Linked DNA regions of Homo sapiens: all the other regions are reported to be linked to region 1. Evidence: microRNA targets listed by miRTarBase, many of them from high-throughput screens and not tested one by one. Region 1 holds a microRNA gene; each other region holds the end of a gene's coding sequence.

Region 1 (4,087 bases):
AGCCCAGCGAGGTGACAGCAGGCCCGGCCTGCCCCCGCAGCTTCGGCTCAGCCTGGTGCGCAGGGAGAGATGGGCCCAGGGTCCCCACTTCTATAAGGTCGTCAGGTCCGTGTGGTGGTCTTTGGCCATCGGCTGTAAATGCTGGCTGGGGGCGACTGAGGAGGAGCAAGATGAGGAGGAAGATGAGGACGATGACCTGCCTTTAGTGTTGGGCAGCTTATGATCTTTTTTCCACTTCATCCTCCGGTTCTGGAACCAGATCTTGATCTGGCGCTCCGACAGACACAGGGTGTGAGCGATTTCAATCCGACGGCGCCTTGTCAGATACCTGTTAAAATGAAATTCTTTTTCCAGTTCTAGGACTTGCTGCCGGGTGTAGGCCGTTCGGGACCGCTTGGGTTCCCCACCGGTGTAGTTGGGGTTCACTGCGAGACAAAACAGACAGGACAGGCAGGTCAGCGCCCGGCCACTAGTTAGGCCCCTCGCCTCCGCCGCTCACTTCCTGGCGCGCCCCGAGGCCCGCGGCCCTCCCCGCGCGCTCCCAAGCTCGCTTGCTTCCTCCCTCCCGCCCTCTCCCCGGCGCACACGCTCACTCCCACCCACCTCCTCAAACACACCCACATACCCCAGGCTTGCGGGATCCCCAAATGTGCTCCTTCTTCTGGGCCCACCACCAGGTCCGGAACCCTCAAGCATTTTGGAAATCCCCCGCTCCTCCACAGCCTTCCCCCTGCTCTGAAAATGGAGTCCTCCCCCACCCCCCCATCCCCACCCCCTTTTGCGCCCACAGCCGAGCAGCCAGCCACATGGTCCTGACCTGCTCCCTCAGCTATAAAAATTTATGGGGAGAGTAATTGCGGCGCCCATGGAAGCTCCACACGCCCCCACCTACTCGCACCCCCTTCCAGAGGACCCAGGCTAACGGGCTGGGATGTGGACAGAAAGGTTACTGGACCCTAGCCTTACCCGAATTCACGTGCACCTTCTTCATCCAGGGGTAGACCACGGCCGGCTGCTTGAGTGCCGTCCCGGAGGGCGGCTGCTTGGGGTCGGACTGACTGTAGGCCCGGGCGCCAGGCAGGGGCGCCGGCGGAGGCGCCGGGGGAGCTGGGCAAGGCTCTCCTGGAGCGGCGTAGTGACCGCCGGGGCCGCCTGGCTCTTGTCCGTGACCCCGCGCAGGCAGCGCCGAGCCAGGCCCGGGGCCGCTGCCTCCGAAAGGCTGCTCACCGAAGTCGGGCCGTGGGTAGAGCCCCGGGGGCTGGAAGTCTGCGCCCTGCGCGCCGCCGCCGTAGTAGTCGGCGCCCTGCTCGCCTAGGTAGCCGCCCTGCAAATACTCCTCGCACGGAGGGAACTTGGGGTCCACATACTTGGAGTTCACCATATACGAACTCATGACCATTAATTTCAGAAGGTAGAAAATACTAATTTTTCTCGTGTTGTCTTTTTTTCTCCTTCCATAGGGCCCTCCTACTTGCTGTCAACTGAATAAAGTTGGGCAGCCATGTGACCAGGCCAGCCAATGGCGAGGGAGCAAGTTTATCACCGGGTTGGTGAGCATCTCATAATTTTCACAAATTTAACTAAATAACATACGTGTAATCAAGTAGCTTGCTATGGCACATTTGAGAGCCCCTGCCAGATATTAATGTAGTTCCAGTCCCCAGCACCCCATTCCCCTCAGGTAATCCCAGCTTTTGTCTGCCACTGATTTTGCCAACCTTCCGTGGCCCTTCCACTCACCCCCAGCTGAATGCAACCCCCGCCCCCCGACACCAAGTAGGCACAGCTCAAGGGAGAATGAATCCTCCTATTGGGGTACAGAGCAATGAAAGGTGGGTGGGTGAACTCGCCTCTGAGTTGGGCAGAGTGCCCCAGGCGAGGAGGGTTCCTGCCTGCCCGCCCTGCCTGCAGCCGGCGGGAGCAGGGATTCTGCCATACAAAGGCCGCCGTCCTGGCTTTGTCTTCATCAGGGTCACCCAAAAGTTACCAGAATCTGGCCAGCTTGAATCAAATTAGGCAATGAGTAACCGCCATGCTTTCTACCAGTGCCCAGGCCCGGGGGTTCCCAGCCAAAGCTGGGCCCTGCCAAAATAGCAGGGGGCCCTCGCTGCCCTTGCCCATGTAGCTGGGGGTGGGCTGGGATGGTGGCAAGGGCACCTCCACCTTGTCAAAATGCACCCTAGAGCTCCCCACTGGGCTTCTTTGAAGCTTGCTTTCTTCCCACAGGCCCCAAATACAAGCAAGCCCCCATTTGGGTACCTTTGCACCTCATGTTCCTGGAGGGCAGAGCTGGGACTGGGCAAGCTGGCCTTGTACCTCACTCCCTAGTACCCCAAAACCTAGCCCTTTGGCCCTGCATCCATGCAACCAATTAGGCTTGCATTCTCTCTTTCTCTCTCTCTCTCTCTTTCTCTCTTTCTGTCTTTCTTTCTTTTCAGCACCCAGAGGATACTCTGTTTAAAGGTGAGGAGCTTCTGGAGAGGAAAAGCTGCTCTATGTCACCAGGCGCAGCTGATCCTCCTGGAGTCCAAGGTAATAAAACAGAACGAGGCGGCTGACCAGCGCCGGCTGCTTCTAGTCTCCATGTCGCACTTTGGTCTCTGGCTATTCCGAAGAAACGTGAAGTTTTTGCATCGACCATATATTCCCCTAGAATCGAATCTGTGACTATACGGATACCACACAAATTCGGTTCTACAGGGTATATATAGACAACGTTACAACCTCTGGGTCCCACCCAGAGTGAGGTACCTAGGTCGCTGCCGGCCCCAATCTCTTCCTCTGAGCCACCACCGTTCGACGCAGCCACCCGCACTTTCTGAGACAGTTCAGGTAGCCTAATGGGCTTGGCGACAATTTGAAGCAATGAGTTCCCTCATTCTTCTGCCAGGGTCAGGGTTACCAAGCAGGCGAACAACCAGAATATTCTTCTTAAGAAAGAAAAAAAGAAAGAAAGAAAGAAAAATAATCCATCCCAAGGATGGCGGCTTTATTAACCACCCTCCCCCACCAGGATCCAAATAACCCTCCTCCTTACCAAGTGGTATTTTCCAGAAAGGAACAAATGCCCTCAGCGGCAGAAGAAAAAGAAGCGAGAGGGGAATATCCTGTGTCTACTCCTTTTCCTACTGCCCGACCAAGCCAGGTTGTCTGCCAAAGCTACTTCTCCAAGAAGTCGCGCATTTACCTTCATGGGCCCTGATCCGGGCTGGCCTCTCCGTTCCGCTGCTGCTGCAGACCCCGAGGCAGGCGCTGCTCACAGGCACCGAGCCGCCTTGGGCTGAGGCCGGCGCGCTAATGGTGAAGGGCAGGGCGAGGGGTCATTCGAAATCATTTACAAACATATCACAAACTTTCATTATTTTTGCTTTGCCGACAGCAGCACACAAGAGTACAAAAGTTCACAAATTTCACCCGCCCCAGCGCCTCGGCACTGTGCAGTGCTTGTCCCTCAGTTCAGGGCATGGAGAGCGCAGACTCACTCAGAGCCTCGATGGATTTCAGGGGCACAGGGATGCCCTGGCTCGAGTGGGGCTTTTGGGTGCCTAACTGTAGGCTGAAGGTGTTAGATTTTTTTTTAACTGTCTTGATTGCCCTTCCTACCTCCCACATAATTCAAAATTTAGTTTCAAGCCTGGGCCTGGGCCTGGTGGGGTGGGGCAGGGATACTCCCCCTCCAAGCCTGGCACTTTGCTCATCCCCCCATCCTTTGCTTCCACCACTTTACCTGTTTCGTAGGGATTTTGGGGGCGCCAGTTCTAACAAGGGCTATGAGGCTGCAGAATCTGTTTATCCCAGGAGAGTCCCCCCAATTTCCCTGAATGCCAAAGACTCCCAAGTATCCACCTTCCTGGGACACTGGGCCTAGGCTCTATCCAGACAAATTGGGGGAGCCTGCTGAGCCGGCTGGAGACCGGGGTGAATATACACATTTTCATATTTGTTAGACGCTGTGACCTGCATTTCACCTTATTGCTCGACTTGTTCAGACAGGTCAAAGCCAACGAGTTATTGATGAACAAAAGCGTTAAATATTCACCTCCCGCTCAACTGCCCATACTAATGCTTTTGATCTCTAGGGCTTTTT
Region 2 (4,087 bases), not on the chromosome of region 1:
AGTTTGAGACTCTGGACGTCCAGACGCAGCAAATGGAAGACACGATGAGCAGCACGACGACGCTCACCACTCCCCAGAACCAAGTGGATATGCTGCTCCAGGAAATGGCAGATGAGGCGGGCCTCGACCTCAACATGGAGCTGCCGCAGGGCCAGACCGGCTCCGTGGGCACGAGCGTGGCTTCGGCGGAGCAGGATGAACTGTCTCAGAGACTGGCCCGCCTTCGGGATCAAGTGTGACGGCAGAACCCGCTCTGAGGTTTCCTGGCCATAGCCACCCTTTGAAATGCTCTCTGTGTGTTAGAGAGATACTATACCCTAGAAACTCTGAACACGCCAGAATGCTGAAATGCCCTTCTACCTTTGGGTTTACAGCCCCCTCCACATAAATTAAGAAATTCAGTATTTCTGCACTCTTAGCTGGATTCTAAAGTTCTGTATAGCTCGTAATGATGGTATTTTTATAGCAGCCTTTTAACAGAACTAGTTAATTTCGTGTATATGAATCTTTCTCGAAGATCTGGTCAAAACTGTATTCAGTTTCCTGCCCAGAATGATCAGATTGAAGGTGGTTGGTTTTTATTATTATTTAGTGTGATTGATAGTATCTAGAATGGCAGGTGGTGCATAAAAGTTAAAGAGAGGGGAAAGATTACTTAGTTTGGTTATACAGTTATAAACACCATGCAGTGTATTCGGTGGACTGTGCTATTTCTGTTTATCCTTTGGGTTTTGGTTTTTGTTTTTTTTTTTTTTGCCTTCACAGTGAGACTGCAAATGATTGTTCTCATAACGTATATTATTAATAAATGTGGTCCTATAATTTATACTGAAATTACCTTAGGATATTTTTGCATAATACTCTCTTACTGCTTACATTCTATAAATTTTTCACGTGATAATTGTCTTTGCGTAACTGGGAAAAATGCCGAATAACTTCCTTTATTATCTGGAAAAATTAAATTTGTTCATTTATATTTTCTACTTACTAAATTGAGTTTTTAAAAAGACTTAGTGTGACATTTGACAGTGTCTTTCAAACGAACTTCTCTAACAAGTTTATAGTTATTTTCCTGTTTCAACACTATTAGAAGTCTTATAAATTATGCTAATTAGCATGGCAGTCATGTTACACACTCTTAACATTGCCAAAGAACTGTTGATTTCGTTTGAGAAAACCCTAGGACTGTGTGTGTGTAGGTTTTGTTTTGATTTTAACAACCAAAAATAGAAATAAAATTAGAACTGCGTTTTAAGTTCTAATTTGCATTTATTAATTTGTCCAAAAGCAAGAACTCTTGGAAATCCTTGAAAATATAAGCTGGAATGTTTTACTTAGCCATGCAAGTCATTTATGTATACATCCAGCCAGCTGGAAATCTGAGAAGTAAAGAGGTAGGACTGGAAGGAAGGAGAAAGCTTGAGTCTTTAAGGCTAGAGCCCAGCTGTGCTGCCTGCCATCTTCTCAGGAATGGCAGTGCGTATTTTCTGGCTGAAAAGTAAAGCATGTATCCACCGCTTTCTCATAGCCTCGAAACATGGAGAAAAGCAACTTGCTTTTGCCTTGGCAAGCATGCTAACCTAAGTTAATTCAAGTTTTTTTTAACTTACCCTTTCCTTCACTGGAAGATTTTTCCATAAGAGAATTCCATTGTTTCAGAAAATAATTATAGGGGCCCTTCCAAGTTCTTTGAAAGATTCATAACCAACTATTCACTATTATAACATGTTTCCCAGTGTAAATGAGTAAGGAAAAAAAAAGTGTAACAGGTGCGTGCAGATGAGGAGTGACCCTCATATTTAAGTTATTTTATATTTGACTGGACATTGTTCAGAAGTGTGCTTTAAGGGACACTTGTTAGTTGTCTGCCCAGCATCTCTCAAGAATATCCCTCCTGTCCTCCACATGGTTGTGCAGGGCCATGTGTGAAGACAGCATGAGTCTTAACCCCTCTTTTATTTTATTTTTGAGACAGAGTCTCGCTCTGTTGCCCAGGCTGGAGTGCTGTGGCGCGATCTCTGCTCACTGCAACCTCCACCTCCCGGGTTCAAGTGATTCTCCTGCCTCAGCCTGCCGAGTAGCTGGAATTACAGGTGTGCACCACCATGCCCAGCTAGTTTTTTTGTATTTTTAGTAGAGACAGGGTTTCACTATGTTGGCCAGGCTGGTCTTGAACTCCTGACCTCAGGTGATCCGCCCACCTCAGCCTCCCAAAGTGCTGGGATTACAGGCATGAGCCACTGCACCTGGCCTTAACCCCTCTTTAGATTGGAAAAAATAATTACAACTTTAAAAATAGCTTAGTGTTGAACCCTTTGGTAAACTAAAGACCCTTTTATAATGCACATATTCCCAACAAAATTAATATATTTTGTGAGATTAAACAATGCTTGTATATGCTTGAACTTTCTTAAAATATGTCCATGTCATACTATTATGAATGTACATTTTTATGAGTCATAAATATTATTTTCAAAAGCACTACAGGCCCATGAATTACTTCCTCACTTTTGCAGTTGATTACTGAAATGTAAATCACAAGAATTTGTCAATTAAATCATTTTAAACTGCATGTTATTGGATGTGAGTGTGCATCCTGTTTTAAAAAACACTTAAGAAAAAAGAATTGCGGGGCACAGTGGCTCACGCCTGTAATCCCAGCACTTTGGGAGGCTGAGGTGGGCAGATCACCTGAGGTCAGGAGTTTGAGACTAGCCTGACCAACATGGAGAAACCCCGCCTCTACTAAAAATATGAAATTAGCTGGGCGTGGTGCTGCACACCTGTAATCTCAGCTACTCAGGAGGCTGAGGCAGGAGAATTGCTTGAACCTGGGAGGCGGAGGTTGAGGTGAGCCAAGATTGCGCCATTGCACTCTAGCCTGCGCAACAAGGATGAAACTCAGTCTCAAAAAAAGGAAAAAAAAAAATTCTGAGGTAGATTTGGGTCAGAAAGCATGATATTTTTCCAAATTCACCCTCAGTCTTAGCACTTAAATTTTTGTTTGGTTAGTATGGCTTTTTCTTGCATATTTCTAGGATCCCTGGCTTATTTTTGTTGTTGCTGTTTTGAGACGGAGTCTCACTGTCGCCCAGGCTGAAGTGCCACCACGATCTCGGCTCACTGCTGCCTCCACCTCCCAGGTTCTAGCGATCCTCCTGCCTCAGCCCCCTGAGTAGCTGGGACTACAGATGCGCACCAACACACCTGGCTAATTTTTGTTTTTGTTGTTGTTGTTGTTGTTTTAGTAGAGTCGGGGTTTCACCATGTTGGCCAGGCTTGTCTCGGACTCCTGACCCTCAAGTGATCCGCCTGCCTCGGCCTCCCAAAGTGCTGGGATTACAGGCGTGAGCCACCGCGCCCGGTCCCCTGGCTTCTTCACTGTAATTGTTTCTTCATAACTACAAGATTTTTTTTCACATTGAAACTTCCCTACACCAAAGATGGATATAATTTACAAAAGTATCCAACTGAAACACATCAGGGAACTAGTTAACTAGTTAATCTTCCATTTAACTACTAGTTATATTTCTTCCTTTCATTTTTCCGCCTTCAAGTGCACAATTTCTAACATGGATTTAGGATTGAAAGAAAAAAGGTAGACTGGATTAATTCACAAAATACTTTCCTCTACTTTTAGTTTATTTCAGTTCAGGAACCCAGATGATACTGTGTGTGCTGCTGGGGAATTTTCTTACTAAAGCTGTTTCTTGCTGAAGGAATGCCAATGTATCTAGATGCCTTTTAAATACAGGCAGACCATGAGGTTTGGACACTGTGTGCCCGCCCTGCTGTCTTTGATTTGGAAAAGACTGCTGGGCCAGGTGCAGTGGCTCACGCCTGTAATCCCAACACTTTGGGAGGCCGAGGCAGGCAGATCATCTGAGGTTGGAAGTTCGAGACCAGCCTGACCAACATGAAGAAACCCCGTCTCTACTAAAAATACAAAATTAGCCGGGCATGGTGGCACATGCCTGTAATCCCAGCTACTTGGGAGGCTGAGGCAGGAGAATTGCTTAAACCCGGGAGGTGGAGGTTGCGGTGAGCCGAGATCGCGCCATTGCACTCCAGCCTGGGCAACAAGAGC
Region 3 (4,087 bases), not on the chromosome of region 1:
TCGCCGCATCCACACAGGCGAACGACCCTACTCCTGCCCTGACTGTGGCAAGAGCTACCGCTCCTTCTCCAACCTCTGGAAGCACCGCAAGACCCATCAGCAGCAGCATCAGGCAGCTGTGCGGCAGCAGCTGGCAGAGGCGGAGGCTGCCGTTGGCCTGGCCGTCATGGAGACTGCTGTGGAGGCGCTACCCCTGGTGGAAGCCATTGAGATCTACCCTCTGGCCGAGGCTGAGGGGGTCCAGATCAGTGGCTGACTCTGCCCGACTTCCTCTTTGGCACCTCCATTCCCTGTTGCTGAAGGCCCTCCAGCATCCCCTTAAGCATCTGTACATACTGTGTCCCTTCCTCTTCCCATCCCCACCACCTTGTAAGTTCTAAATTGGATTTATTCTCTCGTGAGGGGGGTGCTCTGGGGTCCTTGACACACATAAAGGTGCCCCCCCACCTTCCACCTCTTAGCACTGGTGACCCCAAAAATGAAACCATCAATAAAGACTGAGTTGCCAGCAGTGTGTAGAGTGGAATTTGGGAGTCATGGGTCTTACCTCTCGTGGCTGCATCACCAACACCCAGAAGTGGGCCTGGCAGGTATTAGGGGTAGTAGGAGCTCAGTAAACATTTGCTGGGCTGAAGAGAATGACCTGGTGTTCATGGGCATGGCTCTCATAGCAGGGCCTTCACTTCACTGCTAGATGGAGGTAGCATGGCTCTCTTGCCACTAGAGGTCCCATGGCTCTGTGGAAAAGCTCAAGAGTGTTTGTACTGGTGGCAGGAACTTTCAGAGAAATCAGATTTTTACACTCCTGTCCCTGACTCCTGGCCTGATGTGGACCTTGTCTCCCAAGGCCATCTGATTTTCTCATTGATCCCCAAGAGCAAATGCAGGTAGGCATGATCTCTAGAGCTGTGGAATTAAAGGAGATTCTGAATAATATGTGTCTGGATGTAGGAAGATTCATGAGAGGTGGTGACTTGAATTCCCCTGGAGTTGGACTTTGGCTCAGCCAACAGATTTTTATTGTGAGTGATGGATTGTTGGGATGGCTGGCTAATGTTTGAACATCTAGTCAGTCTCAAGTACTATATAACTGAATAATATTCACACTGATTACGTGAGAACATTTTGCAGGGAAGGAATCTCCAGTCAAAAGCATTGAGATGACTTGCCCAAGGTCACATTCAATCCAGGCAGGGCAGAGCTTGAATTTAAGCCTGATTTCATTTCATTTGGTTTAATCACCGATATGCTTTTCTCTCTACTCTGTTGCCTTCTGCATACTTTGGGGAGGGTGGTAGAGACAAGATGGGAGTATGTGACTGGTGGGATGCTAGGCTGCTGTGCTAGCCTTGCTTCTGAGACCCCCCCCCCCAAAGATTATTCCAGATCTTTCTGTTGAACTCTTTTTCCTTTTTATTTTTGAGTTGGAGTCTTTGCCGCCCAGGCTGGAGTGCAGTGGTGTGATCTCGGCTCACTGCAGCCTCCACCTCCCAGGTTCAAGCGTTTCTCCTGCCTCAGCCTCCCGAGTAGCTGGGATTATAGGCGCGTGCCACCACACCCGGCTACGTTTTTGTATTTTCAGTAGAGACGGGGTTTCACCATGTTGGCCAGGCTGGTCTCAAACTCCTGACCTCAGGTGATCTGCCCACCTCAGCCTCCCAAAGTGCTGGAATTATAGGCATGAGCCACTGTGCCCGGCCTGAAAGAACTCCTTTTTTAAGACAGGGTCTCACTGTATCACCCAGGCTGGAGTGCAATGGCACGATCTCGGCTCACTGCAACCTCCGCCTCCTGGGTTCAAGCAATTCTGCCTCACCCTCCCAGGTAGCTGGGATTAGAGCTGCGCACCACCATGCCAGGCTAGTTTTTTGTATTTTTAGTAGAGACAGGGTTTCACCATGTTGGTCGGGCTGGTCTTGAACTCCTGACCTCAGGTGATCTACCTGCCTCAGCCTCCCAAAGTGCTGGGATTACAGGCATGAGCCACCGCGTCTGGCCTAAAACAAATTCTAATAATTGTTCTTGTAAAATAAATGACATAACATTTGAAAAGTTAATGTATTAGGGTTCTGTTTATACAAAAAAAAAATCAGGTTATGTGCGTGTGTGTGTATGTGTGTATCCTACCTGTTATATGTATATAAATTACACAATAGATACAGTAAATAATATATATGTATATAAAGATTTTTTTATAGTTTGTTTTACTCTATAGACATACAAACATACATTTTAATGTTTATATACATATATATAGTTCCAAATCCTAGGATTTGGAGTATTCTTTTTAATTAAGTTCTAGGGCACATGTGCAGAACATGCAGGTTTGTTACATAGGTATACACATGCCATGGTAGTTTGCTGTACCCATCAACCTGTCATCTGCATTAGGTATTTCTCCTAATGCTATCCCTCCCTAGCCCCTCACCCTCTGACAGGTCCTGGTGTGTGATGCTCCCCTCCCTGTGTCCACATGTTCTCATTGTTCGGCTTCCACTTAAGAGTGAGAACATGTGGTGTTTGGTTTTCTGTTCCTGTGTTAGGTTTTATTTTTATCTTTTTATTAAAAATGGGGTCTTGCTGTGTTGGCCAGGCTGGTCTCAAACTCCTGGCCTCTAGGGATCATCCCATTTTGGCCTCCCAAAGTGCTGGGATGAGAGGCATGAGGCACCACACCTGGCCTGTTTTTTTCTATTTTTCAGAGTCTCGCTCTGTCACCCAGGCTGGAATGCAGTTGCACAATCACAGCTCACTGCAGCCTCAACCTCCTAGGCTCAAGTGATCCTGTGATCCTCCTGCCTCAGCCTCCCAAGTAGCTGGAACGACAGGCGAGCACCACCACGTCTGGCTACTTTATTTTGTAGAGATGGCGTCTTGGGTTCTGTTTGGTTCTGACTGTGCCACCTTGAAGATGGGCCTGAACCAAATGATCTTCCTCCATGTACTATTTTTATGTCCCATCCCTGTTGATTTGTTTTGAGAGTTGAGGGGCTTTGCTTTCTTTGTCTTGCCAAAACACTGCAATGCTGACACTTTTTGTCTTACTAAATATGAAACCTGTCTTTCACTCTATTCCTTTTTCCTGTGCCTCAGTTCCCCCAACCCTCACTATCGACTTTGCAGGATCCCAGCACCTGTGTGCCAAGCATACATTAGAGGATGGAACAGTGCTGAGGAAACGCAACAGCTTTTTTTTTTCCTGAGATGGAGTCTTGCTCTGTCACCCAGGCTGGAGTGCAGTGGCACAATCTTGGCTCACTGCAACCTCCACCTCCCAGGTTCAAGTGATTCTTCTGCCGCAGCCTCCCAAGTAGCTGGGACTACAGGCGTACACCACCACGCCCAGCTAATTTTTGTATTTTTAGTACAGACGGTTTCACCATACTGGCCAGGCTGGTCTCGAAGTCCTGACCATTATAATGATCCACCTGCCTTGGCCTCCCAAAGTGCTGGGATTCCAGGCGTGAGCCACCATACCTGGCCCAATTTTGTTCAATTTTTGTAGAGATGGGGTCTCACTGTGTTGCCCAGGCTGGTGTCGAGCTCCTGGGCTCAAGGGTTCTTCCTGCCTTGGCCTCCTAAATTCTAGGGTTACAGGCATGAGCCACCACACATAGCCTGTTTTTTTTGTTTGTTTGTTTTTGAGACGGAGTCTCGCTCTGTCGCCCAGGCTGGAGTGCAGTGGCACATTCTCAGCTCACTGCAAGCTCTGACTCTGGGTTCATGCCATTCTCCTGCCTCAGCCTCCTGAGTAGCTGGGACCACAGGCGCCTGCCACCATGCCCAGCTAATTTTTTGTATTTTTGGTAGAGACGGGGTTTCACCGTGTTAGCCAGGATGGTCTTGATCTCCTGACCTCGTAATCCACCCGCCTCGGCCTCCCAAAGTGCTGGGATTACAGGCCTGAGCCACTGCACCCGGACTTTTTTTTTTTTTTTTTTGAGATGGAGTCTCGCTCTGTCGCCTGGTCTGGAGTGCAGTGACACGACCTCAGCTCACTACAGCTTCCACCTCCCGGATTCAAGCTATTCTCCAGCCTCAGCCTCCCGAGTAGCTGGGTTACAGGCGTGCGCCACCACGTCCGGCT
Region 4 (4,087 bases), not on the chromosome of region 1:
TTTAAAAGCAAATATAATTTTTTTTTTTTTGACAGAGTCTCGCTCGGTCACCCAGGCTGGAGTGCAGTGGCGCGATCTTGGCTCACTGCAACCTCTGCCCCCTACCCCTGCCCCATCCCGAGGTTCAAGTGATTCTCCTGCCTCAGCCTCCCCAGTAGCTGGGATTACAGGCGACTGCCACCACACCCAGCTAAATTTTGCATTTTCAGTAGAGACTGGGTCTCATCATGTTGGCCAGGCTGGTCTTAAACTCCTGACCTCAAGTGATCTGCCCGCCTCGGCCTCCCAACGTGTTGGGATTACAGGCGTGAGCCACTGGGCCTAGCCTAAAAGCAAATATAATTTTCTTAAGCCTGGTCTGGATTTTTGTTTTTTTTTCCTTGCCTCAAATCTCCTTTTTGAAGGCCTGGCCTGGATTTAAATTCTACTAGCAACAGGATAATTTATCTCCTGAAAAATTTCTGGAACTGTATCATGTCCTAAAATTAACAAACCTATTCTCACCCCTCAAAAAAACTGAGTGCCTTCACCTTATCTTTACTCCTACAAAATCACTACCAAAATGTATTTCCTAAAAACTCCTAACCACATAGAATTGAATCTCTACCCTTGCACTCAGCACTTAGATGCTATTTTCATCAGTATCTGTGTTTGTATACTCATTAAAATGCACATCAAGACCTAATATACTTAAAGTGGTAAAATTTACATTCTAGTTATTTTCCAAAATATTCTCACTCATTTTGTATTAATAAAAACAGCTCTATCTTCCCCTCCCTACAAAAAACAAAATGGGGCCCAGTAAGGGCATTAACTAATAATGAACTATGGACTGGTTTAAATTGGAATCTTACTGAGATTTCTTTTTCTCAAAATTAGAAATTTGGAGGCTGGGCGTGGTGGCTCAGCTGTAATCCCAGCCCTTTGGGAGGCTGAGGTGGGCAGATCACAAGGTCAGGAGATAGAGACCATCCTGGCTAACACGGTGAAACCCTGTCTCTAATAAAAATACAAAAAATTAGCTGGGCGTGGTGGCAGGCACCTGTAATCTCAGCTACTCAGGAGACTGAGGCAGGAGAATCACTTGTACCCAGAAGGCAGAGGTTGCAGTGAGCTGATATTGTGCCACTGGACTCCAGCCTGGGCGACACAGACTCCATCTCAAAAAAAAAAAAAAAAAAAATTTGGAGACCAGATTTTTCTACAGACTTCATTTTTAGATCACTTACCAGTAGTGATGATGATTTCCCCATGTATTCCAGGACTTGTGCATTACACATGATGAACATTCCTCCTATCTCTCTAATGTGCTGGTTTACTCCTTTCTAGACCATGCCTTGGGATACCCTAACTTCACAATCACAAGCTTCAGAATTGGGAATAAATCACCTAACAGAACCAGACCACACTTTCCATCTTGATAATAAGTGCCACACCCCAACATGGGGTGCTTCAGGAACTCTTTGAGCTTAAAAGTGTTAGATTATATTCTCCTAAATGTAGTCCATATTTTGCCAATTATATAAACTCAAAATTTATCTGTATTGAGAGCTTATACATACATGGCTGTCCCTAGATCTAAATAATTTAAATGTGAAAATAATTACCAACAGACCAAAAATTAAACCAGACATATTGAAGATTTATACTTTAATTTTTAAATAATCATATGAACCAAAAACACTATTTCTAACTTTTTTCTTTCAGTTCTGGTAAGAGACTGAATCGATTTAGATTATAGCTCAGATTAATTTTTAACTCAACAATGTTTATTAGAAGGCAACTGTTTTTATTTTTTTTCAAGGGAACAACAGAACCACAAGCATTAGCGAAAGATGAATTATCTTTGAAGTTTTGAATGTTTGAACCAGATTTGGATCATATTGATGATGGTCCCTTGTGATAAGCTTGTTTCTTTTGGATAATCTTCAACCTAAAATTACTAATTACTGAAAAATCAAATTAATGTATTGTTTTCATAATAATACAGCAAGGTAAAAGTCTGTGTGGAATATATGGAGTGTCACTTGTGTACCATGTAATAATGAATATTTAGAAACAGATTCAACACTGAAACACTTAAAGCAAATTTCAGGGGCTAACTCCACATATTACATATACCAGGAAGCACTGGTCAGATTCATTTTAAGTAGTCATAAATAATTTCAAACGTTTATTAAAACACATAAATATTAATAGAAAGTCTGGAATTGTGATAATGTTCCCAATTCATTTTTATAATCCAGAATATCGCCTCCTTCCTTCCAAAAGAAAGGCAAAATCTAACAAAATAGAAAAAAGTATTTAGGCAAATAAAGTAGCAACCTAGTTAATTTTTTCTCTCCAATAGTATTTTAGGGCTTTCTTATTTTACATGAGACGATGCTGGAGTAGAAGGACACAGAACACTTTTTTACACACATTTAACTTTTTTACTTTATCAAAGTAGAAATTACCATTTTGTTTTTGGCATTTTTAAGCACTCCAAAATGTTTACCAATGTACCCCTCCTTTTCAGACAGGATTTGGGATAAATGGACTTTGGCACATATCTAACTCTAGTAACAATATTTTACATATGTACACTTATTCCATATATATTCCTTAGTTATTTGATAGCATTTTCCACAGTGGAGTCATAAATTCTGTTCATTATGTTCATTTACAATGAACTACCAGTTAATCTTAGAAAATTTTAGTTTCACAACTTCTGTTAAATTATATTAACAATGTTTCTTTTTTGGAGGTAACTGTTGAATTCTGTACTCAAAATTACACATTTGTTTAAATAAATATCCACACAAATTCTCAGTTACATCAAGTAGCTGGTTTATATTTAGATTATCTCAAGTAGGGGGGAATAACCATGTGTAGGAATTCATAGAAAAATAAACAATCAGCTGAAGAGGTCTAAGAAAATGCTGACTTTTAAAATTTCACTTATTTTCCTTGAAGTTTTCTACCCTTCCCATCGATGATAAACCAAGATCATGTAATGGAAAATTTCAAACCAGGGCTAAATTCTAAAGTAAAGCTTCAATTCAAGCCCTTCCCCCAAGAGAATTAATTTTTCTGATTTCTCTTTCTCTCACATCTAAGGAGAACATTTTAGGCAGTTAAATTTCAGAACTTCAAGGTTTCATCAGGGTCACCTTTATGTACTTGTCTTTAGGGAACCACAATTCTACCTATCGTACATTTCCTAGAGGAAGTACTTATCACCAAAGGGCTAGGCAAGGCCACATACATGTCCCTTAATTAGGAGTACAGAGCTAAAAATCTGGTGTCTGATTATTAAATGTGCACAATATTTGGGTGTAATCGGCATTTTAAAAATTCAGTAATGCCCATTATAAATAACTTATCTGGACAGACTCAATAATAAAAATAACTGGTTAAAATAAAAAGAACCACCTGTTTAATAACATATAAATATCTTGTTAAGAATGAATCAGTGTGACCTGGGAGAGTTTAGAAATTCTTGAGTTAGTTACAACAACATAGTGATAGGTTTTTCAAGGTACTTTCTAAACTCAGCAAGCCACTGGGCTCCAACTGCTCCATCCACCACCCGGTGATCACAACTGAGTGTAACAGACATCATGCTAGCCACATCAAACCTAGAAAAAGATAAAGACATTTTAGATATTCTGAAAGAAAATACTGCATTTCAGCCAGTAACCACCCAAATGCTCACTCCTACCCTATAATCCCAACCAGGTAATACTTCCTATCTACTCTTCCAGTCTCCTATACCTTTAGCTCAAATTTATAGCTTGAAGAAACAGACCAGATACCTGGAGTATGGGTGGGCAATGGGCCAAATCCTGTCCTCTGCCTGTTTTTATTAGGTAAAGATTTACTGCAATTCATTTGTCTTGTTTATGCCTCCCTTCATACTACAATGGCAGATTATTTGCAACAGCAGCCATATGTCCCAGAAAGCCTAAAATACTTACTATACAACTAAAAAAAAGCATGCTGACTCCTCACCTAGAATAAATAAGGCTTTCCACCTCAAATAGGACTAACTGCATTTAGTAAAGTTGCTGCCTTGAAGAATTTCGTATTTTTTATATATATATAA
Region 5 (4,087 bases), not on the chromosome of region 1:
GGTTCCCCCAGCCATGCTTATGCCATGGAGGCCCGTGCGGAGGCTGAGTGCCCCAGTGAGGGGCCGCTCAATGAGCTCGGTTCATGATGAACTTCACCAAGTGGCCCGGCTCAGCCCACCCACACTTTCCCCAATCTAGAAATCTCTGCAGCCTAGAAATTTCTCCAGTGGAGGGAGAGGTGGGAACGTGCAGGCTGCTAGCTCTGTGTTGGACTTGTGATTCCCTCAGTCCTCTGGCAGAGGGAGCTGCCTCTGCTCTCTTTGTGCCCTGCAGAGCTGCCAGGGGCTTGCTGTTGAGCCAACGTTCTTGGCCAGGCAAACACAGCAGGGAGCCAGGCAGAGACCCTTGCCCAGGGGAGCTTATGACCTTGAGAGCCACAGGCAGTCACAAGTCTTTAGGTGGCATGAAGTGTTGTGAGAAAAATAGGATATTCTGGGGGTACAAGGCACATTTTAAAGAGGGCTGGGTGGGTCTCAGTGTAGAGGTGCAGCTGAGCGTAGGCCTGAGGGACAAGGGTGCTGCACGGCTGTCCAGGGTGGCTGAGGTGAGGAGCAGGGGTCGGGTCTGGCTGGCCCTGCTCCCTGTGTGTGGCTTCCTGTCCTGACGCGGCTCCGTTGCTTCCCAGCTGTATCCACGGATCAAACCCCGACAGCGAACACTCGCCTGAACTTCCTTTTGGAGCACCGCATGGTCTTGCCAGCTACCAGGAGCCACTTAAGAGATTATTGTGCTGTTTTCCAGGAAAGCTGCAGCTAGAAAATGGTCTTAATGGTGCTCACTTTAGCAGACAGCGTCCACAATGTGAATCCTACAGTTTCCAGGTGAGGCCCTTTCTCCAGTTTGCCCATTAACTGGGAGAGGTACTTTCGCCTCCAAGGACTGAATTTTGCCAATTACTATAAATCCAAATAAATACCCACTTTCAAAACACCCACCCCTCTTGCCATTAAGAAGTCCCATAACCCCCGGTTGGTTGCCAGTGAAGACAGAAGCTCTTACTGACTTGGCCCCGAGGCCATCACCCCCTCCAGCAGTGAACACTGTCCGCCGCTGTGAGGCCTGCTCCCCTGCGACCGCCCTGCCCCCCGTCACCGAATCGGACACTCATCCTTTCTCACACTTCCCACACATGATCCTTCTTCCCTTCATCACCAAAGGAGCCTCTGTATGGAAACATGTCCAGTGTTGCTGCCCAGTGTGTATGCCTCCCAGTACCCACTCTGCTCGGCCGCCTTGGGGGTTCCGCTTCCTGTTCCAGTTCACCTAAAGGCTGATTGTGCAGGCCCAGCACTGTGGCTGGACTGCCGCGCCACGGGCACCAGGACCCCTAAGACCAAGTGACAACTGGGAGAGCCTCAGCATATACTCTTCTCCTCCGATCTCACAGCCTGTCATGCTGCTCAGTGTGGTTCTCACCCCTGCAAGCTCAAATTCAGTTCCCTGAATGGAGTCAGGTGCTGGAGGCCGTGGCAGCGGAGGGTGGTTGGGGTTGGGGCTGGGGGTGGACTGGTGTGAGGGCAGACCAGGGCCAGGTAGACGGGGCTGTTTGGTGCCTGAAGGATGGCAGACGCCTGGTGTCAGGAGGGGCCGCCACCAAGGAGCAGCAGCTGGGGCAGAGGAGCTGGGGTCAGGGGCCACCCCTCTCTGCCGATCTCCCTGCCTGGGCTGGCTGTGAGGCCACCTTTGTCCCAGGCCCAGCCTCAAGGCAAGGAGGGCGCTTCACTGAGGTGTGAATTGTACGTACAGGCTTTTTATATACCAAAAGTATTTTTTGACTAGACCATTCAAAGCTACCCGAACTATGTTGGAAATTTTTTTTTTCTCATTAAAATACAGGCCCTTAGGCTCTATTTTTCATGTATGAGTCGTGTGTAATTTATGTAAAAATGTGTGTACAGACTCACTGATGCAGCACTGTAGCCCATCACCTTGGAGCACTGACTGTACATAGTGTGGTGAAGAAAAGTGAACGCCCTTGTAGAGCAGCCCGACCACAGGAGCATGGCCGCTGCCAGCCCAGACGCTGCTGACGCTGTGTAAATGTGCACAATAAACCCGTCTCACCCCGGCGGCTGTGAGTCTTCTTTCTGGACCCAGACTGCGCTGTGGCACGAGGGTTCAGGTGATCTGGACACAGGAAGGCGAGGCCTTGTCCGTATGTTCAAAATAGTTTTTAATCATAAGCTTTATATACAAATTGCTGTACAGTCATCTTAATAAAGTGAAATAGTGAGTGAAAAGTACAAAACACAAAGCCCCCACGTTCCCCTTGGTGAAGTATCAAAGGATCACTCACAGCCCAGAAGCCCCAAATTAGTGACAAGGTAAGTGGACAAGTCTGTGAAACAGGCTAAGGCAAGTGCTGTAAACTGGCTATTAGAGGCGAACAGGCTCCACTGCAGACCAGAAGCCTGAGTTCCTACTGCCCAAACTGGTTCTGTGGAAGAATTAAATGAAATGAATATTGATGGGCCAGAACCTTCTAGTAGACCTGCGAACTCATAAAAATGGTATATATTATGCTAAAAATAGTTTAGCAGTAGTGTAGCTCAGTCTCTCCCACCCCCAATTAAGTATTGACAATACACAAATTCTAAAACATGAAGCTGTTTAAAGCATTAATAAACTGTGAACATATTGCACTAGATAAGTGAACACTCCTGTTTCTCCAAATACATGAGTGAGTTGCATTTCCCAGCACAAGCAGGATTAATCCCTGTGGTACGCAAGGAGCAGGCTCTGCTGTTCCAAGCGACTCAGTCCTGGTGACCACACGTACTCCAAGCTCAGCCCCACGTAGAGTTACTGGTCCCGAGATTCATAGAGGAGCTTGGCAGCCTGCAGATCAGACAAGATCAACACAGTGAGGCCTGCTTGGTCCTGTGCCTGGTGGAGCCAAGCCTGTGTGCATTTCAGGGGAGATGGCGTGGGCACCCCAGCTGAGGGGGAACAGGTTGTGGGGATAGGGGGCAAATGGCAGGACACAGAGCTTCCTCTGGGAAAGGCAAGCTTTTGTCTAAGCCAAAGGGCCCAGCCTCCCTGGCCTGGGCTCAGGTACCTTGTGCATGGCCACTAGCCACGCCACCGCCTGCCTCCTGCCCACAGTCACGTCCTCCACCACTGTCAGCTTCAGCTGGGTCACACCCTCCGTCCCCGGCACTGTATACTGCAGGAACATGCCTGTGGCCCGTGCGTTGCCTCCTGGAGGAGAGAGACGAGGTAAGACGGCCCAAAGGAGGCCCTGAGTGCCCAGGCGGCCACCAGCCCCAAGGCGGTGGCCAGCACATCCTAACCTTGTGCTGCTCCAAGAGTAGCCTGGCAGTGAGGGCTGGTGCTCAGGAGCACCCAGGGAACACCATCTCCTCAGGCCTCTGAGGGGAGACCCCAAGCTCACAGGTGGGGTGGGAGAGGGACCAAGACACTCAGCCGGGTGCCCCAGGGCCCGGGACAAACAACAAGAGCCACATCACCACGAGAGGCCTTGCTCTCGGCTAATTGAGGCGCTGCTATGCCCTGGGGCCTGTGGGGGTTCCTGCCTTCAGAGAACCTCCAGACAAGACTGGCTCCTGCAGAGGTGCCCACCTGCACCCAGGGCTGGGGGAAGAGTGGAGGCCACCTCGAGAGTGCCCTGGCCACTGACAGGCCAAGCAGATGGTCAGGGACACAGCTGGCCTCACCCAGGAGTCAGAGGCCTCAGCCATCCCACCGTTGAGAAGCGGCGTCAGCACAGAGGGGATTGTCACTACAAAGGCCCAGTGTCAGGGAAATGCCACCCCAGCCTGGTCACGGGCCATCTCCCCAGACCCAGCACCCATGTTGGGGACTGGTCTCTGGGACCCAGGCTCCCCGTCTTTGGGCGGTGACCAGCTGTTCCAGTGACAATGACTCAATTCCAGCACTCGCTCCAACAATACACTGCTGAAGAGAGCAGCTCTTCAGTCAGGGCTGGTGTTGAAAGAGACCCATGGGATGCAGCCTCCCATGAACTTGATGACTTGGGAGGGAAGCCCCATCGTAGGCAATCACTGACCTCTCAGGAGACCCCTCCATCAGACACACATCCCCCCATCAGCACTCAGGGCCGGC
Region 6 (4,087 bases), not on the chromosome of region 1:
CCCAAAAATGTCCATGCCCTAATCCCTAGAACCGATGCATCTCTTTCCTTACATACTAAAAGGGACTTTGTAGACGTGGCGAGATTCATGATCTTCATGGGGGAAGGGCATCCTGGATAATCTAGATGGGCCAATACAATCACAGGGGTCCTGTCAGGGGGCAGTAGGAGAGTCAGAGAAAAAGGAGATGTGATGACAGAAGTTGGAGAAAGGGACCACCCAAAGGTATGCACGCGGCCTCTGGGAGCAGGAAAGATGGATTCTCCCCTGAAGCCCCCAAGAAGGAATACAGCCCTGCTCACACCTTGATCTTAGCTCAGTGAGACCCATTTTGGACTTCTTACTTCCAGAATGTAAGATAAATTTGTGTTGCTTTAAACTACTAAATGTCTGGTAATTTGTAACAGTAGCAATAAAAACCTGATAGGAGGAAATCAGAATTTCACTGAACATTCTGCAAAATTTGCTCTTCTGGGCACAAGTCTTTGTTTAACTGCAGGGCTTAAGGCCCGCAGAACTTAGTGGTGCCTTTCTTGGCATGCCACCCTGGCAGGTTTTCACCATCCTTCAGGCCTTTCTCTCCACCTCTGTGTACCAAGCCTGATTTCTGCTGTCCCCAAGAATCTCCTTTCATTCAACCACCTTTGCGGCCTACATTTGATTAGCTATTCTAAAGTAGTGGTGTCAGAAGCATTTGAACCAGAGCAACTCCATCTTCAATAGGCGCTGGGTAAAATAAGGCTGAGACCTACTGGGCTGCATTCCCAGCAGATTAAGGCATTCTAAGTCACAGGATGAGATAGGAGGTCGGCACAAGATACAGGTCAGAAATACCTTGCTGATAAAACAGATTGCGGTAAAGAAGCCGGCCAAAACCCACCACAACCAAAATGTTGACGAGAGTGACCTCTGGTCGTCCTCACTGCTACGCTCCCATCAGCACCACGACAGTTTACAAATGCCATGGCAACGTCAGGAAGTTACCTTACATGGTCTAAAAAGGTGAGGCATGAATAATCCACCCCTTGTTTAGCATATCATCAAGAAATAACCCTAACAATGGGCAACCAGCAGCCCTTGGGGCTGCTCTGTCTATGGAGTAGCCATTCTTTATTCCTTTACTTTTCTAATAAACTTGCTTTCACTTTATGGACTTGCCCTGAATTCTTTCTTGTGTCAGATCCAAGAACCCTCTCTTGGGAAGGACTCCCGGTAACAGTGTGTGTCTGGTAACAGTGTGTGTTTGGGAGGAGGGTTACTAGAAATAGGTAGAAATTCAAGGAGCAAACATGAAATATAAAACTTCGCGTATTTTCTTCCCCAGCATCAGGCCGAAGAGAAAGAAAGCTACAGACTGAGAATCAGAGACATTGGCAATTTGCAATCTAGCTAGGAACCCTGAACTGCACTATACTGAACATTTGCTCTGTGCGTTATAAAGTCTGGGGCATGGGCAGAAGTTCCCAGCCTTTTAGTCCAGACCCAGGAGGCTAGATACTGAGAGACAGTAGAGGCGATGGTGAAAGTGTAGTTCTTAGTTTTGAAAATCCAGATTTGAATAATCATTCTGAGGATCACGGTTCCTGGTCTTACTTCCTCCAAGGGGCCCCAAACGGAGCCCGCTGCAGGGTGAGCTCCTCAAAGCCGCTGAACCCAGAGGGCGCATCACTCCAACCTCTAACCCAAGACATCGACTTCTGGGTCCGTGTCACTTAAATAAGTTTATAAAGTGCACGTCTCTGGCACTAACCAAGAAAGGCAAGTTAGCAAGAAAGCGCGCTTTTTAACTGTCCTCTCCCAGAATAAAAGGCCCTTACTTTTTATTCTAGATTCTGGATAATTTTATTTTTTCTTTCCGTCTGTTACTAGTTGGGAGCTAAACACTGGCCAGGGTCCCAGCGGCTGCTGGAAAGGCGCCTTCCTAGGAGCAGAAGGCTCGCTTAGGAGACACTGGGGGCAGGGAGCGAACTCGCGGCTCTTTGTCCCCGCAGCAGTTCGGTCGAGGCTATTTCCCGCCAGGCCGAGCCCCTGGTCTGAGCGCCCGATAGCGGGGTGCGGCGAGGAGACTCCGGGAACACTCGCTGGGCAAGCAGCTAGCACAGCCCCCCATCTCCTCCGGGTTGGGGGACGCAGGCGCGGGCCTAGGCCGCCGCGGGGGCGGGGACCACCCACGAAGTCCAGCGCCCCGCCCCGGACGCGCCCGCCCCGCCTGCCTCGCGCGCTCCTCCCGGCGCCAGGAGGCCCAGCGCACCGCGCCGAGCTTCCTCGGAGTCCTCCCTACAGCCGACTCAGGGAGAAGGTCCTGGAGGGCCCGGGTAGGGGAAGAGAGGGCCTTCTTCCTCCTCATTCCCCGTCCCGGCCCCAGCGGAGTGCTCATGTCCCTCCTCCCCATCCCCCTCCTGTTTTGGGTGACAAATTAATTTTAATTAGAAAAACACAGATCAGGTTTTGGAACAAAATTATGCTGTTCCTAGATTGGAACTGGGACTCTTTCGACCTAATTTAGAGCAGAGGGCGAGGCTGTGGGAGGGTGGCAATGCATCGGTTGAAGGAGACGCGCGTGTGGCGGGCAGCAAGGGGGAGGTGTGTGGCGTTTAGGAGAGTCTCCAGTGCCGTCCTCTGCAGGGCCCTTCTACACCTCCCCTTCCAGTTGCCAGAATGGAAAATTCATGGAGTCCCGCGTAGCCCAGGTCAACACGCTTTTATTGCCACTTCTGGCTCCCCTCGTCCCAGCAAGATTCCTACCTCTTACCCTGTAGGAATACTGAGCTCCGATGCAGGGGAATGGGGTGGGGGTGTTACCACTTCTCCTCTGCACACTGCCAAGTTAAAGAAAACCCTGCTTGCTGGAGAGGGAGGGCCAGACAGGGAGGAATTCAAGGGCATGTATGGCTCAGTCCCACTTCTGACTGCAGAGTATAGGGACCAGGGTTCCAAACTTTTTTTCGAAGTAAGGGAGGTGGGGAAGAATTTGGCTGCTGTTGTACCCCGTGTCCTAGCTGCCATGTTTCCATGGAAATGAAGGCGGGGCAGGATGTAGCTCACTCTGACTACCTGGGAGGATGGCAGGACAGGCATTTGGTAAACATATCTCCCTCCACTCCTACCTAGCACATACGGCTGTCCCCAGCCGACCCCCAGGCTCTCTCCTCACTGCCTGCTCCACTCCCTTCCCTTCTGGAGCTGGTATCATGCCAAGTGGAGTCCAGGCAGGGCTGCCAGTGCTACTCTCCACAGCCAGGTCTCACTGGCACGTTAGGATCTAAGTATGTCCGCCAAGCTCAGGAGCATCCCTGCTAGAGCTGGTGGTGGCAGTGCCTCGGTGAAAAGGCAGCAGCAGTACCCCCAACTCTCTGTGCAACTGCTGTTTCCCAAACAAAACTGAAAACATAAACCCAAACACTTAAGGGTATCACTCTGGCACAATGCTGAGGGCTGGGATGGGGGAGAGGAGGCGCATCCTCCTGAGACTGGAGCCACCTGTGCACCCTGCCTTCTGCCCATCTGGAGTTTGCTTCTTCCCACTGGGCTGTCACTGGGGGGCTGGAATCCAAATCTCCATTTGGTGCTGCTTTCAGCACCCACTGCTGTTCGTTTATGAGGCTTGCCAGTTTCCATGGTGAGGAGGTGCAGGATGGATTCTCAGTACCATGGGTCAGCCCGGTGCTGCTGGTTGTAGAGCTGTAGCTTGATCTGATCTTTGATCTGATTCACTAGGATCTGGGACAGCAGAATTCCCACCAGCTGGGAGAGGCAAGAAGGAATTGGGCACTCAGCAGTGAGTGATGGCCTTGTTTTCCCTGGCTCGATCTTCCCAGTGCGGCCAGCACTATCCCTTTCCCTACCCCTCAGCCATGTCAGTGCCTGACACCCTCGCTGATCCCCAGGTGCCTTCCCCAAAACAAAGGAGTCTTTACAGAGTGTGTGGGACCAACAAGTCTCACAGGGTAAGTTACCTGGGGGATGGCCAGGCCTAGAGCCACACCACCAAGTAAGAATAGGTTGCTGTGTATCCAGTTGACCAACTTGTCAATACAGCCATTGGTGTAGATGACTTTGCTAGCTTCCAAGTAGTCAAAGGCCTGCA

Evidence for each region. The annotated mature microRNA hsa-miR-10b-5p reads UACCCUGUAGAACCGAAUUUGUG and lies in region 1 at 2,682-2,704, opposite strand. An mRNA with a match to its seed (bases 2 to 7 or 8) in the 3' UTR can be bound and repressed. Matches are read on the target gene's strand: a 7mer-m8 pairs with bases 2 to 8, a 7mer-A1 pairs with bases 2 to 7 and ends in A, and an 8mer does both.
Region 2: miRTarBase lists CHMP1B as a target of hsa-miR-10b-5p. Seed matches in the 3' UTR shown: 7mer-m8 at 2,140-2,146.
Region 3: the mRNA of ZNF574 is a reported target of hsa-miR-10b-5p. The part of its 3' UTR that is shown has no 7-base or 8-base seed match.
Region 4: miRTarBase lists DLAT as a target of hsa-miR-10b-5p. The part of its 3' UTR that is shown has no 7-base or 8-base seed match.
Region 5: the mRNA of PPP1R13B is a reported target of hsa-miR-10b-5p. The part of its 3' UTR that is shown has no 7-base or 8-base seed match.
Region 6: the mRNA of TSPAN33 is a reported target of hsa-miR-10b-5p. Seed matches in the 3' UTR shown: 8mer at 2,750-2,757.

Annotation. Positions count from the first base shown.
Region 1 is chr2:176,148,946-176,153,032 of GRCh38, reverse strand. MIR10B (microRNA 10b) reads right to left here and starts at 2,730; the gene lies at 2,621-2,730. It overlaps HOXD4 (homeobox D4), which reads right to left and starts at 1,483. Exons shown (of 2, transcript NM_014621.3): 1 at 967-1,483; 2 at 1-425. The coding sequence starts at 1,399. The coding sequence ends at 91. It also overlaps a transcript of HOXD3 not described here. RefSeq lists an enhancer at 1,031-1,764.
Region 2 is chr18:11,851,873-11,855,959 of GRCh38, forward strand. It overlaps CHMP1B (charged multivesicular body protein 1B), which reads left to right. Exons shown (of 1, transcript NM_020412.5): 1 at 1-2,572. The coding sequence ends at 239. All of the region lies in intron 5 of GNAL (G protein subunit alpha L), which reads left to right. Among named protein-coding and RNA genes, the nearest start is that of CHMP1B, 2.5 kb to the left of the region's middle. RefSeq lists a silencer at 1-252.
Region 3 is chr19:42,081,042-42,085,128 of GRCh38, forward strand. ZNF574 (zinc finger protein 574) reads left to right here. Exons shown (of 2, transcript NM_022752.6): 2 at 1-511. The coding sequence ends at 256. Among named protein-coding and RNA genes, the nearest start is that of ZNF574, 6.9 kb to the left of the region's middle.
Region 4 is chr11:112,061,939-112,066,025 of GRCh38, reverse strand. DLAT (dihydrolipoamide S-acetyltransferase) reads right to left here. Exons shown (of 14, transcript NM_001931.5): 14 at 1,622-3,620. The coding sequence ends at 3,491. It also overlaps a transcript of PIH1D2 not described here. Among named protein-coding and RNA genes, the nearest start is that of PIH1D2, 10 kb to the left of the region's middle.
Region 5 is chr14:103,731,735-103,735,821 of GRCh38, reverse strand. It overlaps PPP1R13B (protein phosphatase 1 regulatory subunit 13B), which reads left to right. Exons shown (of 17, transcript NM_015316.3): 17 at 627-2,627. The coding sequence ends at 668. ZFYVE21 (zinc finger FYVE-type containing 21) reads right to left here. Exons shown (of 7, transcript NM_024071.4): 6 at 3,060-3,202; 7 at 2,158-2,839. The coding sequence ends at 2,804. Among named protein-coding and RNA genes, the nearest start is that of ZFYVE21, 18 kb to the right of the region's middle.
Region 6 is chr7:129,167,430-129,171,516 of GRCh38, reverse strand. It overlaps TSPAN33 (tetraspanin 33), which reads right to left. Exons shown (of 8, transcript NM_178562.5): 7 at 3,957-4,087; 8 at 1,818-3,744. The coding sequence ends at 3,643. Among named protein-coding and RNA genes, the nearest start is that of SMO, 19 kb to the left of the region's middle. RefSeq lists enhancers at 752-1,621, 1,691-1,740 and a silencer at 2,111-2,330.